Regions from separate parts of the Homo sapiens genome. Here region 1 is linked to region 2. Evidence: fine-mapped expression QTL. A gene starts in region 2. The other region holds a variant in brackets. All regions are shown on one strand. Distances are from middle to middle.

Evidence for each region.
Region 1: its variant is fine-mapped to the expression of GAD1 in tibial artery (GTEx, PIP above 0.99). The same link has a PIP of 0.9 or more in aorta and coronary artery.

The regions. Positions count from the first base shown.
Region 1 is chr2:170,374,187-170,382,519 of GRCh38, forward strand. It overlaps MYO3B (myosin IIIB), which reads left to right. Exons shown (of 35, transcript NM_138995.5): 10 at 7,830-7,926. Among named protein-coding and RNA genes, the nearest start is that of MYO3B-AS1, 27 kb to the left of the region's middle. The variant C/G (reference allele first, on the strand shown) is at 3,539.
Region 2 is chr2:170,811,927-170,820,259 of GRCh38, forward strand. GAD1 (glutamate decarboxylase 1) reads left to right here and starts at 4,961. Exons shown (of 17, transcript NM_000817.3): 1 at 4,961-5,122; 2 at 6,603-6,747. The coding sequence starts at 6,666. GAD1-AS1 (GAD1 antisense RNA 1) reads right to left here and starts at 6,725. Exons shown (of 4, transcript NR_197761.1): 1 at 6,460-6,725; 2 at 5,792-5,989; 3 at 4,928-5,106; 4 at 2,697-4,559. RefSeq lists a silencer at 4,776-4,855 and enhancers at 4,943-5,112, 6,352-6,875, 6,876-7,398.

The DNA.
Region 1 (8,333 bases), 440 kb before region 2:
GGCTAGAGACTGACTTCAGTGGACATGATGAGTGGGCAAGGAAGCAAGGGAATCGAGGTTAGTAGAAGAGTGGCCTTGGGATCTTTGTGGGTAGGGAAGAAAGTGACACCAGACTGGCTTATTGACTTTGAGGCTGATCTAGTCCTGGGACTGGCTATTACAACAAAGATGAAGAGCAGATTCAGTGAGGGGATGATGAGAAAAGGGATTGTAGAACTGAGATCCTAGGAACTTTTGATAGATAATTAGGAACTAAGGATAGCTGAGCTTGTGGGCAACTTCGGTGGAATAGAAAGAAATGTTTTTTAAGTGTTGACAGGTTGAGGAACTCTTAGATCAGATCCATCTCAGTTATGGCACATATTCAAGAGTATTCAAAAACAAGGCTAAGAATCATGGAGGGCTTGTTCACATAGAGCAGAAGCTGTACTGTGCTTGGAGGGCTTGAATTTGTAAGTCCCCTGTCTCACCTCTCCTGGGTCTAACCATTCAGGCTTTTCTGAGTGCTTTTTGGAAAGCCAGGATGTGATTCATCCCTATTTCACTCTCTCTATATATATATATGCATACATACACACACACACACACACACACACACACACACACACACACACTACAGATATAGATACAGGACAGCAGAGGCACCTGTGGAGAAGTGATATTGTACTATTTGAGATTTGATAGATACCATTACCTGATGCTGATTATAGTGTATGTATGACATCATTGGAATTTAAGTTTTTCCAGTAAATTATAATTGTGCCAATGCATGTATTTGATTCAGGTACAATAGAGCAGTTATTAATCCAAGTCTTACTCTTTTAAAGGAGTAAGCCCTAAAGGGCTAAAGAAGCCCTAAAACTATGTGAACAATGGGCTGAAAGTACATTGTTACTTCATCTGTTGGAGGTGTTTTTAAACTATTTGGTCATTTCCTTTATATCAGCACCTATTTCCTTGATCTGCAAAAAGACGACTTCTTCCCCAAACCAGTTTTGCAAATCCCTGAATTCATTAGTATCATCTGGTATGTCATCTCACTGTTAAAGTTCAGAGAAGTAGATTGAAAACATGCTTTGTATCATTTTACAAGGGTTATTGGGAGAAGAGTGAAACCACTCTCTGGAATGTGAGTGGAGGCAGGGAAAGGACTCGATTGTCTCTGCCACGACCATGAACTCAACCGTGAACCTCAGTAAAATTACAAGATCCAGCATGCCGTGCCCCTGCAGGTGGCTTGGTACTAGCTGAAACCACAGATGTTAAACCCTAAATGCCAAGGGTCTGTTCTAAGTATTACTTGGTAGAAGAATTAAGTTGCTGGGTTTTTTTTTTTTCTGCTCTGTTTAATGGGTTGTCATGTCGCCCTTGCAATTTGCCTGAGGCTGATTAAAACAATGACTTCAGCTTTTGATTTCTTTTCAACCTGCAGCAATGACCTTTAAAAACAGATTTCTCACTATTTAACTGCTAGTTTTCCCCAGTAATCCTTGCTCACTCTCTCCCTCTTCTACCTTCAAATATGTGCATGCATGCACACACACACACACACACACACAGAGCACCCCATATTATATACACTAATGGGTTATTGGGTTCTTATGTAAATAAGTAACTCCAGAAAGATTACTTCATAAAGTGCTGAAGAAGCTTAACACACAGGAGGTTAAATATCCTTTTATCTTCCTAACAGAAGAAATAAATCTATACCTTGCTATAATTAGTATCTGCTATCTATCTATACCTATATCTGTCTATCTACAAATGAGTAAGTTAGTTAATATTAATTTTATGCTGGTGTTACTGATTCTTGCCGCTTAGAGAAGTTGGGTATATCAAATACTGTTTAATATGATTAATGATAAGATGCTGATTTATTGGGATTCTGGCCAAAACGGTGCTTAGATGAAAAATGGGCAGATACTATAATAATTTCCACCCAAACAATTCTCCTATTTTAAAATTTATGCATTGTATTGTTTGAAAGACATAGCCTTAAGTTCAGGGTCAAGATACAGCTCATGTAGTTAAAGGTATCCAGCTGCTATCTCTGTCCATATTTGACTCTCAGTAGAATAATGTCATTCCTCAAAGGTCTGCTATTGTTTTTCTCGTTTGAGGTCCATTATTATATAGTTACGGTAAAATAAAAGTCCCTCTTTCATTGGCTCTGTTATCAAAGGGTATATTGAATGGAAATTAAGATTTAGAAGAAATATTCAACATCACTGACCTTGGTGTAGTAACAGTACTCTATTCTCAGTTTTGAGTAATGTTTTCTTTCTTGTATGGAATCCATTGAATGTAGTGATAAGGGAGTGATCCCTGAGTTCTCTCTATGGCCATGGAGGCTTTTGTCCTAGATTCTTGAGGACTGACATCTTTGAGCCTGCACCTTTTTCCTTATTCCCTCTCTCTATTTTTTTTTTTGCCTCTATCCGCAACAAATTTTACTTCCTTTTCCATCTGGAATCTGGTAACAGTGATAGTCATTCTCCACTTTTTGCAGTTCCACTCTTGGACGGAGGAGAGGGTTCTTATCCTGGGTGTGGAGGAGCAGAGGCAGAGGTGACCTTCACAATGGTGCTGACACAGGGTGACTCTCTAAGAAGCCAGCAGGCATTTCTCAGTGCAGAGATTAACTTCTTAGGAGTATATTGCTTGTTGTTATTATTATTAGGCTGAATTGATAAGCTAGAAGAATTTGTTTCCTTCTCATGTTTGAGTTATGATTTAGAGCACCTTTTTCTATTACTTGTTCTTCATCATAGTTGGGGAGTGAAAGGAAGAGCGTATCCTGTCTCACCTACGTGAAGTTCTTGCAGCTCTGTTTGTACCTACCTACATGGAAGCCTCCACTTCCATAGGCATAACTGGCAGACAGAAAGAGGCTAATTGATTAATGAGTCACTTTTGGGCAAAATATGTTTGTCAATATAGTTCATAGGACTAGCAGCTCAAACAAAGAAGCTAGCAGGCCCAGTGATGAGATATTAGAGAACAATGACACAGAAATGGTTTTAACCATAATGCAGATACAGAGATTAAACTAGAGTGAAAGCTGCAACACTTTAGGAGTTTATTTCATGAGAATAATTCTTCTAGTGTTTAAACCAGTTTGGTGTCCTCTAAAGCTCCTTTCCCACTCATTGGCTGGGCCAAAGATTTGAACAAAGACCCCCATCCTCTACCTCATCTATGCCCACTGTTGTCTTAGGGGAACTCCCAGCCTCTACCTCTGGCTCTGTCTTTCCCGTTCTTCAGATTCTATTCTTACGCTGCACTCATTTCCTTGGACTTGATGGTACAGACTTGCCCTCATTCCCACCCTACTTGATCCATGGATTCAGGCACCAGTTTCCCCTTTACCTGATCCCTGAAACCTAAGGCCCGTCCTGCTCTCCACAGTCTCCCGCTCCACTGCCACACCAAAAGCAAACTCCAGGAACCAGTCCAAGCCAAGACTTTCCCTCTAAGCTCCAACTCGCAAACTCTGTTTGTCTGAGAAGCCAGCCTTGGCAGCCAACATACTTACAAA[C/G]TCATAAAAACAAGTAGGAAATCTAAGAAAAGCAATATAAACTTTACTGGAATTTGAAAACGTCTTCTGAGCCATTAAAACTACAGTGCCTTACCACATACTTTTGATTTAGTAGAATGTTTTTTGCTGTTTATCCATTCATTTATCTATGTCTCCATTCCTCTGAGCTTTGGAATACTCGATCCAAGTAGCTTTTAGTTGGAGATCTGTAATTTTCACATTAAACGAGGAATTCTTCAGCAAAAATTGATAATAGGTCCTATTCTCAAGTAGGGCACTAGATGGAGCATGTGAATTTAAAGGAAATTAAGATCTATAGTTACTAATGACACAAATCACTTAACTCAATAAAATTAAAAAAATAAACCAAGTTTATTTTTATTAATTTCAACTAAAAATAGAGAAATATAAAACAACGTAACGCTTTTTATAAGCTTATGCAAAGTCTAGGAAAATGTTTTTAAAGGAGATAAAAATTGAAATAAATAATGCTTTTTCTCTACGATAGACCCTCCAAACCCCATAGCCAGAGGAGGAAAGTTAAGCGGGCAGCAGTTTCCAAAGAACACTAGTTGTGGAAGGCAGAAATAGTGCTACACATATATATATTTTTTCTGGTTGAGAAAACGAAGTGGTCTTTATCAGAGTAGAGAAGTCTTGCATCTACATCCACTTCTAGATTGCCTACTTCACTTTTAGGAGCAAATATTTCTAAAGAATTTGATCACCTGTAAGCATGGAAAGAGGCCACACATTGCTACTAATAGCAGTTAAAATTTTTAAAAAGTTATTTTTTGTTAATACAATATTATTGGGGAAGATTTTTTACAAGAATCAAGCTCAGATTTGCAGACAACATCTGCATGATTCTTGGAAGTTATATCTGTGAGACAGATTGGCATAGCACACAATCTCCTTCAGGCTCAGAAGATACCAATGTTGATCCTAGTGATATTGCATTGTGTATATTCACACTGAAAATTAAAACTTTCTACTAGACTGCATCTATTTGTGAGATTGCAAGTAAGGTTTGGTCCATGCTTCCATTTTTAGTTGGCTATAAAAATGTCATCCAATGTGAAGCTTGGCATTTCTGTATGCAGCTCAGGCTGCCATTAAATCCAGGTCAGGAGTTACTGAAGGAAAAAAAAGCCTGGAAAACTCACCATTGGTTCAGTGGTATTTTGAGTTCTGACTTCCTTCCCCAGTCTGCCTGTTACAATTTACTTCTCAGAGTCTTAAGATAGCTGCTCCATGCATTCTGACAAGGGTATTTAGTTGTCTTCAGTGAGGAGTGGAGAGGGCTTACTCCATCTTGACCAGAACCAGATCTGAGGTAATTTTTTAATTATTGATTTTCTTTGTCAAATGATGTGCAGAATATGCAATTATAAGATATAAATGTAGGAAGGAGACAAACTAGCTGAATTTAATATGGTAATTTAATTATTTCATGAAAATGTGGTACAATTTTTTTTTTTTTTTTTTTGAGACGGAATCTTGCTCTGTTGCCAGGTTGGCATGCAGTGGCTTGATCTCGGCTCACTGCAACCTCTGCCTCCCGGGTTCAAGCAATTCTCCTGCCTCAGCCTCCTGAGTAGCTGGGGCTACAGGCGTGCACCACCACGCCTAGCTAATTTTTGTATTTTTGGTAGAGACGGGATTTCACCATGTTGGCCAGGATGGTCTTAATCTCTTGACCTTGTGATCCACCCGCCTTGGCCGCCCAAAGTGCTGGGATTACAGGCGTGAACCACTGTACCCAGCCAGTATTTTGTTTTTTGATTAACTTCAAGCAAAATTATTCTTAGGTTTTATGTGAAGGGGATTTTGATCGGAAATATGTATCCTCCTGCTGTTTTATTTAACAAAATGGCTAGCTAGAGGCAGGCAGCAGCTCTGAGTTTTAGTAAAAATCTGTATTACAAACCAATTTGATTTTTCTTTGCCATCACCAATATGTAAAGTCACAGATAAATAATTCTGTTTAATAATTTTAAACTGCTTAGGTTATAAATTTGATTTGATTAAATAAAAATTAAGCTTCATTCTACTTTGGACCTTTATATGAATTAGCAGCAAAACTGGTTCTAGGACTGGAGATGACTAATAGCATGCTTCAAATATCTCTTTTCAAATTTATCAGTGATGGAGATTGAAAGGTAAGATTTAACTTAATAGGCTAGAAAGAGAGAAATCCATTTTATTTGGCCATTAATATTGCATTATAAACTCAAGACTCAATATGCAGAGCTGATAAGTTTGCTTCTTCCTTTTTACCTACTTTTGTGAAATGCATACCAAAGGGTGGGGTGTACATCAAGATTCCATGACTTCTAGCTGGTACTTACCATAAAACTTTCAGTCAACACCAGCTTCTAGGATCTAGCTAGATAGAATTGTATTGGTGGGTGATATCCTCATAAGCTGTGATGTTGATGGGCACAAAAGTGACAGAGAAGAATCAAGAAGTTATGCTTCTGGGCTAGTGAATTTACAGTATGTAGGACAGTTTATGTATGATTTTGTTTAGTCAATGATATTCAGAGTAATGTGTGTAGTTATGCAAATTGTTGATTCCAAATGTTAACAAGGATGTAAGAATAATAATTAGTACATGTTTTCAACTTTATTGCATTTTTATATCCATGACTATATGTGCTTTCACAGCTACCTGGGAGATAGACAGATCAGTTATGAGTAATTCTATTTATAGATGAAGAAAACCGATATACTGGCTGTTAAGGGATTTGCTGAGTGTCTCATACCACATTGCTCGCAACTCTGAAACTAGGGTCCAGAGCTCTTCTAGCCAATGCTTTCCTCCTAAACCGCATTGAGGAGTGATGAGTTTATGAAAGGAATTACGGGAAGGCCTACTTTGACCTTGAATTAATTTTAAACCTTAAAGAGCTATATTTTAGTATACCAGAGGGGATTATTACTGATTATCAAACAAGATTTTTAAATCCTTAGTGAACAGTGCCCTCCAGGAGAAAAACTCACATATATACACAAAAAGATGTGTATAAAGTTTTAAGTGTTGCATTATTACTAGTAGCAAAAAAATTGGAATCAGCCTAAATGTTGATCAACATAGGACTGAGTAGGCCGGGTGCAGTGGCATATGCCTGTAATCCCAGCACTTTGAGAGGCCAAGGTGGCAGGATCACTTGAAGCCAGAAGTTTGAGATTAGCCTGGACAACAAAGCAAAACTCCATCTCTACAAAAAATAATTTTAAAAAATTAGCCAGGCACAATAGTGCATACTTCTAGTACCAGCTAGTTGAGAGGCTGAGTGGGGAGGGTTGCTTGAGCCCAAGAGTTTGAGGCTGCAGTGAGCTATGACTATGCCACTGCATTTCAGCCTGGTGACAGAGCAAGACCCCATCTCTAAAAATTACTAAATAAATAAATAAAATTTTAAAAACAACAACCCCCCCCATCGGACTGAGTAAATAAATAGGTACATATTCATAAAGTATAATACTACCCAGTGATTAAAGTGACTGAACTAGGTAGGTAGGTAAGTGGGTAAGGTAGATAGGTAGATAGATAGATAAATAGAGTTTAAAAATCATAATGTTTAATGAAAAAAGTAAGCTTACAGTATAAAACCTAAGTATGATATCATTTTTATAACTAAACATACAGAACCTGTATATTGCTCATGGGTATCTATAGGCATATGACCAATATTTAAAAATAGACTGGAAGGAAACCCATCAAATAGTGGTCACCTCAGGAGAGAGGAGTGGGATGGGACAAGGGTCACAAAGGGATTTCACATGAATAAGAAAAAACATAAACAGTGATCAATTATTTGGTATTTACTATATTAATCTCTGAAAGTGTTACGTAGGTTAAAAACTATCACAAAAGTTGGGGGTGGTGCTGGTAGATAAAGCAAGGGGACCTCAAGGGAAGTAAGGCACTTATGGCTATACCCCAGTGAGAACTATGTGCCTGACACTGAGCAGAAGTCAGAGGTGTTTATTCTGGAAGTGCTGTCTTTGGCATTTAAGAAAAGCAAGTATGTGTATTAGGTGGGCCCATTTGGTAACACTCCTCACTCTGGCAGGAAGTAGACTTGAACTATGGAGATCACTTTATCCCAATAGTTCTACAGTGGCAGGAAAAGCCTGGGGACCTGGACTGGACTTCCTGTCCCTGTCTCTGAAGTCTCTGAACATATCACGTGATAAGATTGTGAATGAGCCATGCTTGCTGCCCGCTTTCTGCTACATTATTTGCTGTCTTAATGCTTAAACTCTCTTGATAAATTTCTAGGCATGAGAGGATGCATACCAGAAGACCTTATCATGTGGAAGATGCTGAAAAATACTGCCTTGAGGATGATTTGGTCAACCTAGAGGTTCTGGATGAGGTACTAAATATTTAGTAGACAATTCTCATTGAAGACATTTGTTTCATGTGAATGGTCTGAACTTTCTGTTGTAGACCATGTCCTCCTAAGGTCATTTGAAAATTTAATTGTTTGTGTAGCTATGGGATGAAGTTCAGGGAGCATTCAGTTGCTGTGACTATGATCCTGTGCTGTGTTTATTTAGATAGCCCCTAGAATGATGAAGAGAAAAGGATTTGGATTTTTGCAATAAAGCTCTTTATATTGTAGCCTTAATGATGGATTATATCAGCTGAAAATATTTTGTTTGATAAAATTTGATAAAATATTTCAATTAACCCTTAAGAAGTTGTTTGTTCTTCATAAGAAAGAGCTTCATTTAGGGAAATAGTGAAGTTAATATAGCTTGAATTCTAAATTTGAAGTCT
Region 2 (8,333 bases):
ACCATAACTGGCTAATTTTTGTATGTTTAATAGAGATTGGGTTTCTCCATGTTGCCCAGGCTAGTCTCGAACTCCTGGCCTCAAGAGATCTGCCTGCCTCGGCCTCCTAAAGTGCAGGGATTACAGGCGTGAACCACCGCACACAGTCCCCGTTGCCCTTCTTGGTATAGGAGAGTGTATTCGTCAGCTATTGTCACAATATTTGATATAGTTTGGATGTTTGTCCTCTCTAATCTCGTGCTGAAATGTGACCCCCAATGTTGAAGGTGGGGCCTAATGGGAACGGCAATCAATCATGCACCCCTTCTGTTAAAGTTCCAGTTTCCTCCCCTGAGTAACTGGTCAGGATTAGGGGAAGAAACCTGGCCTGGAATAGAAGTTTAAGTTATTAGATTCGCCACAACTAAGTCAGAACTTTCCAGAACCTTTTCACAAACAACAGTCCCAGATACCTATGTTTGAAAATGGGGACTAAATATCTGTTATTTTAAGTAGTCCAAGAGCTTTTACACTAAAAGAAATGAATAAAATATTACTCTCCTCAGTCTCCCATGAATTCTGTATTTCACTAAAGCATCTCAGGTGGGAAATCCTCCTTTTTGCATCCCACCCTTTTGGGGAAGGACTGATTTCGCCTTGGTTTTTGTTGAGATCAGAAGACACAGATATACCTTTAAAGCTCCCCATCAGAATTACAATCCAGAACTGTATTTCCTTGGTTTCCAGTTTTGCAGTGAATCAGTTTCTTGCCTAATATTCACAGGTTCACTACATTTGAGACACAGCTAGGTGGGAAAAAAACAGATGCCATGCACCCCCTAGTCTTTCACCAAAGAGACGCACTACCCTAGGTGTTTCAGGTCACTTCCAGAGCACTTCTGACCATTTGAAAAGGCCCTGCTTTGTGAAATTTGGCAGGGATGAGTATGAGCCTGCATTCTTCCTTGAAGAACTGCTCCCTTGGGAGGCCTGTTGTTTCTTCTCAGAAATTGTAATCTATTGCCACCTGGTGGTCATTCTGTCTTCGAGTTTAGAATAGCAAGAATTGGACGTTTCAAGATTTGCACAAGGAGATTTGCCCAAACACAAATCACCCTGTCCTCCTTGATTCATTTATTTGTATTAGAATATTTTCATCTTCTGACTATCAAGGGGGAAGGACCATTTGCCAGTTATCCGAAGAATCCAGCTCTCTTCTTTAGAAAAAGTGGCTGTAATTCCTAGAGTCCTCTCCAGCCTTCCAGCATTCTGCTGTCACCCCTCCCACCCCCTCTCACCCTTTTAACATTTTCCTGCCTCCCAGCTGTGAGTGTTGTGTGGTCTGTTGGGATGGGGGTGTGGATTTAGCTATGATCCTTCAAAAAAGTCCAGAATAATTCAGGGAACTATCTTTAAAGTACAAAAACAGCAAATGGACCTTAGCTCCGACTTAAGCAGAATGAAAGGTTAAGTAACGCTTCCCCCAGTTCTCGTCTCGGGAGACAGACGTTTAACCGGTGAGCACTGCCATTTTTTTTTTCCTTTCTGGTCATAAATTAGACACTTAAAATAGATTTTAAGGAGCCAGCTGAAACGAACCAATACCATGGCTCTAAATTACGTTTCCTGGAGGCTAAAAATTCTAATTGCGTCAAAAAAAATTGACGTGTCCTGTCTACTCACCTTGACTGACCACGTTTTAGGCGTGAAGATCTCCCCGCAGCCCGTTTGGGCGCTCCTTCAACGCCTCACGCTCCTCCTACTCACCCGTTTTTCCCTTTGCAGAAAAGGCTTGGCCCCAAATCCGGTTGGAATATCTTTAAACAATCCCCCACCCACCCACGACGGGGAAAGGAATAAAGGGCATTGTGGGCGGAGGGTCGTGTTCCCAAGTCCCAGCGGTGGTTGACCTAAGGAAACGTTATCCTCGGCAGACAGGGTGGAGTAGCCGGGGCTGCAAGCTCGCAAATCCCTAATGCCGGAGAGAGACTGGAGGGGTCGCATATCGCCCCCTCCTTCTTCTGCCTTTGAGCGCCGCGTTCCCATTTCTTCAAAGCGCTTCAAATACAATCGAAACAGCTGGGCGGACACCACTCCCTTCCGGGCCACCCCTCATCACCGGTTCGAGTCCCCGGAGAGGATATCTTTTTTCCACCCCCATTATCCCAAGAATCCTCCCCCAGGAATGATAAAAGATTAAAGGAAGAGTGAAAGACATAAACAAAAATATAGGTTTCAAATGTTGTTTAGAGCCGAATGACAACCACGGCCACTCTTAGTTCAAATTCCTACCGGAGAGAAGAGCAGTGGGCGAAATACCTCACCCCCCAACTAGGCAAAACAAACAGCAGTTACTGTCAGGAGGGAGGAGGGCTGGGGCGAGTCTGGTGGGTTGGCCCATAGCTATTGGCGGAAGCAAACGAAACAGAGGCATGGGGACCAGAAGGACGGGCGCTGTCCTTCGTGCTGAAAGATCTATGCCCTACCTCAAAACTCAGTAATCTGGATGGAGTGGAATTCCAGGCCTTCAATTCATTACCATTCCTGCTGTGCCCAAGAGTTCGAGTTGGAGGAGATCATTGAAAATTAAATCAAATTTATGAAGTTTCTAAGTGCGCTCCTCTCCCTGCCTCACCGGAATGTCCACTCCCGGCGTGCAGGATAATATAAACCGCAGGGACAATGCAAGCTCCAAAAAATAAGTGCTTGGCACATAGTAGGGGATTAATAAATATTCGTTTAATCAATTACTGCTAATATTCAATTAAACATTCTAAACAAGGACGGACAAAAGTCTTCATTCCTCCCCTACTCACCATAAAGGAGAAAGAGAGGGATGTCCTCGAAGCTGGACGGACTCAGCTTCAGCTTGCGTTACCTAGCCTTGCAGGAGATTCCTTCTCCAACGAGATTATTTCATTGGCTAAAACGTTAGGGGTGTTTTGAACTCTGGGGTCAAAGGAGGAAGTGGTTGGAAATGTCTCAATCTCGTGCCACAGGTGAAGTAAACGAATCTTCCTTTCCAGGGAATCACGGGTTTTGGGAAAAGGTTGAGGCGAGCGGGCGTCTATGCTGGACAATGAAGAACGAGGGGCACCGGGAGATGTGTTGCCTCCTCCTTCCTGTCTCCTGCCCCGTGCGTCTTGAATGATTTAGCACTGGCACCTGGCTCCCTGATTGGTGCGAGCGTCTCGTTTAGGGAAGGCTCTAGGAGGGCCGGTGGATGGAATTCCGAGCTTCACCTGGTTGTATGCCGCCCACTTCAAGCAGCGCAGAGCAGCTGCCGGTTGAGTGGTTTGGGGGGACGTTTCCTACGTGGAGCAGACACCCCCAGCCTGTCCAGCCCCAAGCCTCAGTGCCCGGGGCTGCAGTCACCGCGCGCCCCGCCGTTTAGGATGTTTTTTGTGTCCTTAAAAAGTGCCGGGGATTTCATCGTCAGGTGGAGACAAGGCGACAAAACAGTAGTTTCTTTAGTACCAAAGGCAACGCGATTATTTCAAACCCCACAGCGAGATCCCTCTTGCTGATCAGGCCATGTCTGCCCAGGGCGGACCCTTCGATCTCCCTTATGGAACTCTCGGTAATTTATAATATTTTTGTGTGTGTTTCCATTGTGTTGTGGTGAAAGGCGATAAGGCATTCAAAGAAAACGGACGGGCCTCCGCTGAACCAGTGAGGCCCCAGACGTGCGCATAAATAACCCCTGCGTGCTGCACCACCTGGGGAGAGGGGGAGGACCACGGTAAATACCAGTAAAGGAATCACTGCCTACACGGTGTCACCCAGACACGCACAGACATCAACATTTTTGCCCTAAAGAAAAAAACTGGGGGAGAAGAAAGGGGAGAACTTAAACTAGTGACAGGGCGGTGAGGGAAGGCATGAAGAGGCAAGCCGGCGCGTAACCGTCTGGCCAGCAGCTCCAGGTGTGGGCTCCGCTCGGGCGCTGGCGGAGAGACCCGGGAGCGCAGGGCCTCTCCGTCTCTGGGCTCTTGGCGCCCTCTGGTGGGAATTTCTCTTTCAACGCATTTTTACGGCGAGGGGCTTCTCCCAACGCAGCGGTTCTTTTAACTACGCCTAAATATTGCAAAGGGAGAATCCTTAAAGCGCGTGAAATCGAAGGGGGAGCGGGCCAGGGCAAGGGGGGCTGGTCCGCCCCTTCCGGGCACCTCTGTGCTCGGGTGCCCCATGCGCGTGCAGCGGCGCTCGTGCGTGTCATCAACCTTCAAACGTGATTAATCAGGAGGCCTTCTTTTCCCATCACCAAGGGGGCCAAAGCGAGGAGCGAGCGCATAGCAAAAGGGACGCGGGGTCCTTTTCTCTGCCGGTGGCACTGGGTAGCTGTGGCCAGGTGTGGTACTTTGATGGGGCCCAGGGCTGGATGAGGAAACTGTAATTCCTCCATGGTCTAAGAGGTCTCCCCTCATTTCTGCCTCCTTTGCGGTTACAACAATCCCAGCTCCGTAGAGAGCCAACGAGGACACGACCCAAAGCGCGCTTTCGCTCAAGGAAGCGTCGCAGGGTCACAGATCTGGGGGAACCCCGGGGAAAAGCACTGAGGCAAAACCGCCGCTCGTCTCCTACAATATATGGGAGGGGGAGGGGAAATGGGAGAGGGGAAAGGAGGGGAGGGAAGAAGAAACGCTCAGAAAGGCAGAATTCTTCGTAGGAATTATCTTTTCCCTCCTCTCACCCGACAGCCTGCCTATTTCCAAAGGAAAAAAAAAAAGCGTGTTGAGTACGTTCTGGATTACTCATAAGACCTTTTTTTTTTCCTTCCGGGCGCAAAACCGTGAGCTGGATTTATAATCGCCCTATAAAGCTCCAGAGGCGGTCAGGCACCTGCAGAGGAGCCCCGCCGCTCCGCCGACTAGCTGCCCCCGCGAGCAACGGCCTCGTGATTTCCCCGCCGATCCGGTCCCCGCCTCCCCACTCTGCCCCCGCCTACCCCGGAGCCGTGCAGCCGCCTCTCCGAATCTCTCTCTTCTCCTGGCGCTCGCGTGCGAGAGGGAACTAGCGAGAACGAGGAAGCAGCTGGAGGTGACGCCGGGCAGATTACGCCTGTCAGGGCCGAGCCGAGCGGATCGCTGGGCGCTGTGCAGAGGAAAGGCGGGAGTGCCCGGCTCGCTGTCGCAGAGCCGAGGTGGGTAAGCTAGCGACCACCTGGACTTCCCAGCGCCCAACCGTGGCTTTTCAGCCAGGTCCTCTCCTCCCGCGGCTTCTCAACCAACCCCATCCCAGCGCCGGCCACCCAACCTCCCGAAATGAGTGCTTCCTGCCCGCCCTAGTCCCTGCTCTCCACGGGTGCGCTGCGCAGGGACCCCCCCCCCCCCGCCTCCCTCGTCACTCTTCTTATCCCTGCCCTCCGGATTCACGCCCCGGGGAAGCACGGAGGCTGAGGCTCTAGTTGAAGTGGGGCAAGAGCGATTTTCCCTTGAGCTTCCATGCTGCGAGCGCCTGTCCCTCCAAAGGGCGCCTGGGCAGCAGCAGCCGAAGGCGCTACTAGGAACGGTAACCTGTTACTTTTCCAGGGGCCGTAGTCGACCCGCTGCCCGAGTTGCTGTGCGACTGCGCGCGCGGGGCTAGGAGTGAGGTCGGAGGGAGGGTGTGGAGGCGATGGCCGGTGGGCCCTTCTCTGTGGGGTCCTCGATCTACCCAGATTAGCCCGCAATCTCTCTGTCCCGGGGCCTTCGGGCGCCATCGCGCCAGCGCCGAGAGTCGAGCAGGGGCGCCGCGCAAGATCTTTGTCCGCCGCCTCCTGCGCGCTGCGCGCAAGTTCGTTTCCCCGGTGACGTTCCCCATGCTTACTTACCCCACCCTCTCTGGATCTGTACCGCGAGAAATCTGGGGTCCTCAGGGGGCTAGGTAGAGGAGAAACGCTGAAACCGGACCGAAACCTCGCCCTAGGCTTAGCGATGGCTAAAAACCGGCTGGGATAAGAGGGAGGCAAGCAACATTCCGACTCGCTGCTTTCTGGCTGTCTGGAGTGCAAGGTGACTGTGGTTCTTCTCTGGCCAAGTCCGAGGGAGAACGTAAAGATATGGGCCTTTTTCCCCCTCTCACCTTGTCTCACCAAAGTCCCTAGTCCCCGGAGCAGTTAGCCTCTTTCTTTCCAGGGAATTAGCCAGACACAACAACGGGAACCAGACACCGAACCAGACATGCCCGCCCCGTGCGCCCTCCCCCCGCTGGCCCACACGCCGGCTGCTGAGTGCCCAATGGGGCTTGTAGCGGCTCGGCTGGAAAATCGCTCACTGAGCGCTCCCCTGTGCTCCTAGCCTAGTCCCCCACACCCTTGCGTCTTGTACTGGCCTTGGACCCCCACCCCGACCCCGACCCCGCCTCGTCTCGGCGCTTCACTCCAGGTCGCGCCGATGCACCGCCAGACTCGAGAGCGGCCCAGGGCTACGCTCCCTGCGCCCCAGTACCGGAGCTAGCGCGCACGTCTCCTCCGCTGCCCCCACCCCTGCGCACCCCTACCAGGCAGGCTCGCTGCCTTTCCTCCCTCTTGTCTCTCCAGAGCCGGATCTTCAAGGGGAGCCTCCGTGCCCCCGGCTGCTCAGTCCCTCCGGTGTGCAGGACCCCGGAAGTCCTCCCCGCACAGCTCTCGCTTCTCTTTGCAGCCTGTTTCTGCGCCGGACCAGTCGAGGACTCTGGACAGTAGAGGCCCCGGGACGACCGAGCTGATGGCGTCTTCGACCCCATCTTCGTCCGCAACCTCCTCGAACGCGGGAGCGGACCCCAATACCACTAACCTGCGCCCCACAAGTAGGTCCCGCCCCAATTTTCTATCAAATGAACTGCAGGGAAGATGGGGGCGCTGGGACGTCGGGAGGCTGAGCTGGCGGAAAGGGAAGGGGGAGCGCGGAGATAATGGAGGCTGGGAAATAAATGGGGCTCTGACCCCGTCCCTGCCAGAGGTCATTCGGCTGTCAGGGACGCTAGGTGACTCCCAGGGCACCGGAAAGCGAGGACCACGCAAGGTCCGAGCAGCGGCGATCGTTGAGGGCTTCGCGGAGGAGGAGGGGCGCGCAGCCAGGGTGTTGTTTTTATTCTGTTGTGTGTGGTTTCTTTGCTCCGTGGGACGACAGGGGTCAGCGCAGGGGGCGGAATGAAGAGCTAGGAGCCCCAGCAGGAATAAGAGTTTTCAGTCCCCGGCTTTCGTTGAGCCAAGATCTGACCTCCTCCTTTCCCCCTGGGCTGTGTTCAAAGTCTATAATCAGCGGAAATTTCGACGTTAATTGCAGCTTTTAGAAAACTCAAGGTCCCTAATTGCTCCAAATTTGCATCAAGCTATTGACGAGTTAGGGAGAAGTCAGGGGCGGGAAAGGTGCATAAAACTGAGACTGAGCCTTGACATTTCATACAATTAATTACATCTCAGAGAAATAAATAAATAAATAAATAAATAGGGGAGCGGGCGGCATCCTGAGTGGCAAGAGATGGGGAACTGGGAGGGGGCAAGAAGCTTTATCATAGAGAGGAGAGAGCACCTCTCTCCTTATCCCAGGCAAGAGATCTGTCAGGAGGTGACATGTCCCGAAAAGAGAGAAAGAAAAGAGACACCAGATAAAAGAGGGGGGAGGATTTATGCTTCCCTGTCTTAAGTGCGACAGGCTCCTCAACCCATTTCCAGAATCTATCTTTAATTTTATTTCCTACCTCTGTAAAGGCTTGAGATGAGAAAATTGTTTTTCTTTTTCCTTGTTGGAGTGAAGAAGTGTCTCCTGACCCCACCCCCCTAAAAAAACTTATCAGCTTCAGACTGTAAGTGTTCCCACTCCCCCATTTATTTATTTCTGAGATGTAATTAATTGTATGAATTTCCAGAATTTGTATACAGAAAGGGCTTAAGAAGGATAGTGTGGTTACAGGGAGTGCTTATTGATGCGCTTTTATGGCACTTTATATTTGAGAAAATAAGTATCCTCATCAATGAAGTGGGGATTATTACCGGAAAGCCCCTTTAGACGCTGGCATTGGCTCCCGGGCAGGAGGTCTCGTGTTAAGTCCTCAGGTCTCATTCCAATTTCCTTTGCAGCTCCCTCTTCCCGCCACCCAGGAGGGATACAATTACCCACACAACAAAGAGGGCCTCGGGAGAGTCGCCAGCCCTGGTAGCATATGAACCAGGCACCGGCGTTGGAGCTGGCCAGGGCAGGGCGGGAGGAACGCGAGGCCTGCGCGCCTTTGTGTGGTGCTTTCGCCTTGATGGATTTCTTTTCTGACGCTTTCCACATTTCCCGCTCCCTTTTGCCGCCTGGGGGTGGGGGTGGGGGGTTAGCGGGCAGTTGTGTTAATTTGCCCTCCACTCCCGGCGCCCTTACGGAATTCCCGGTGGCCGCCAGTCGCCG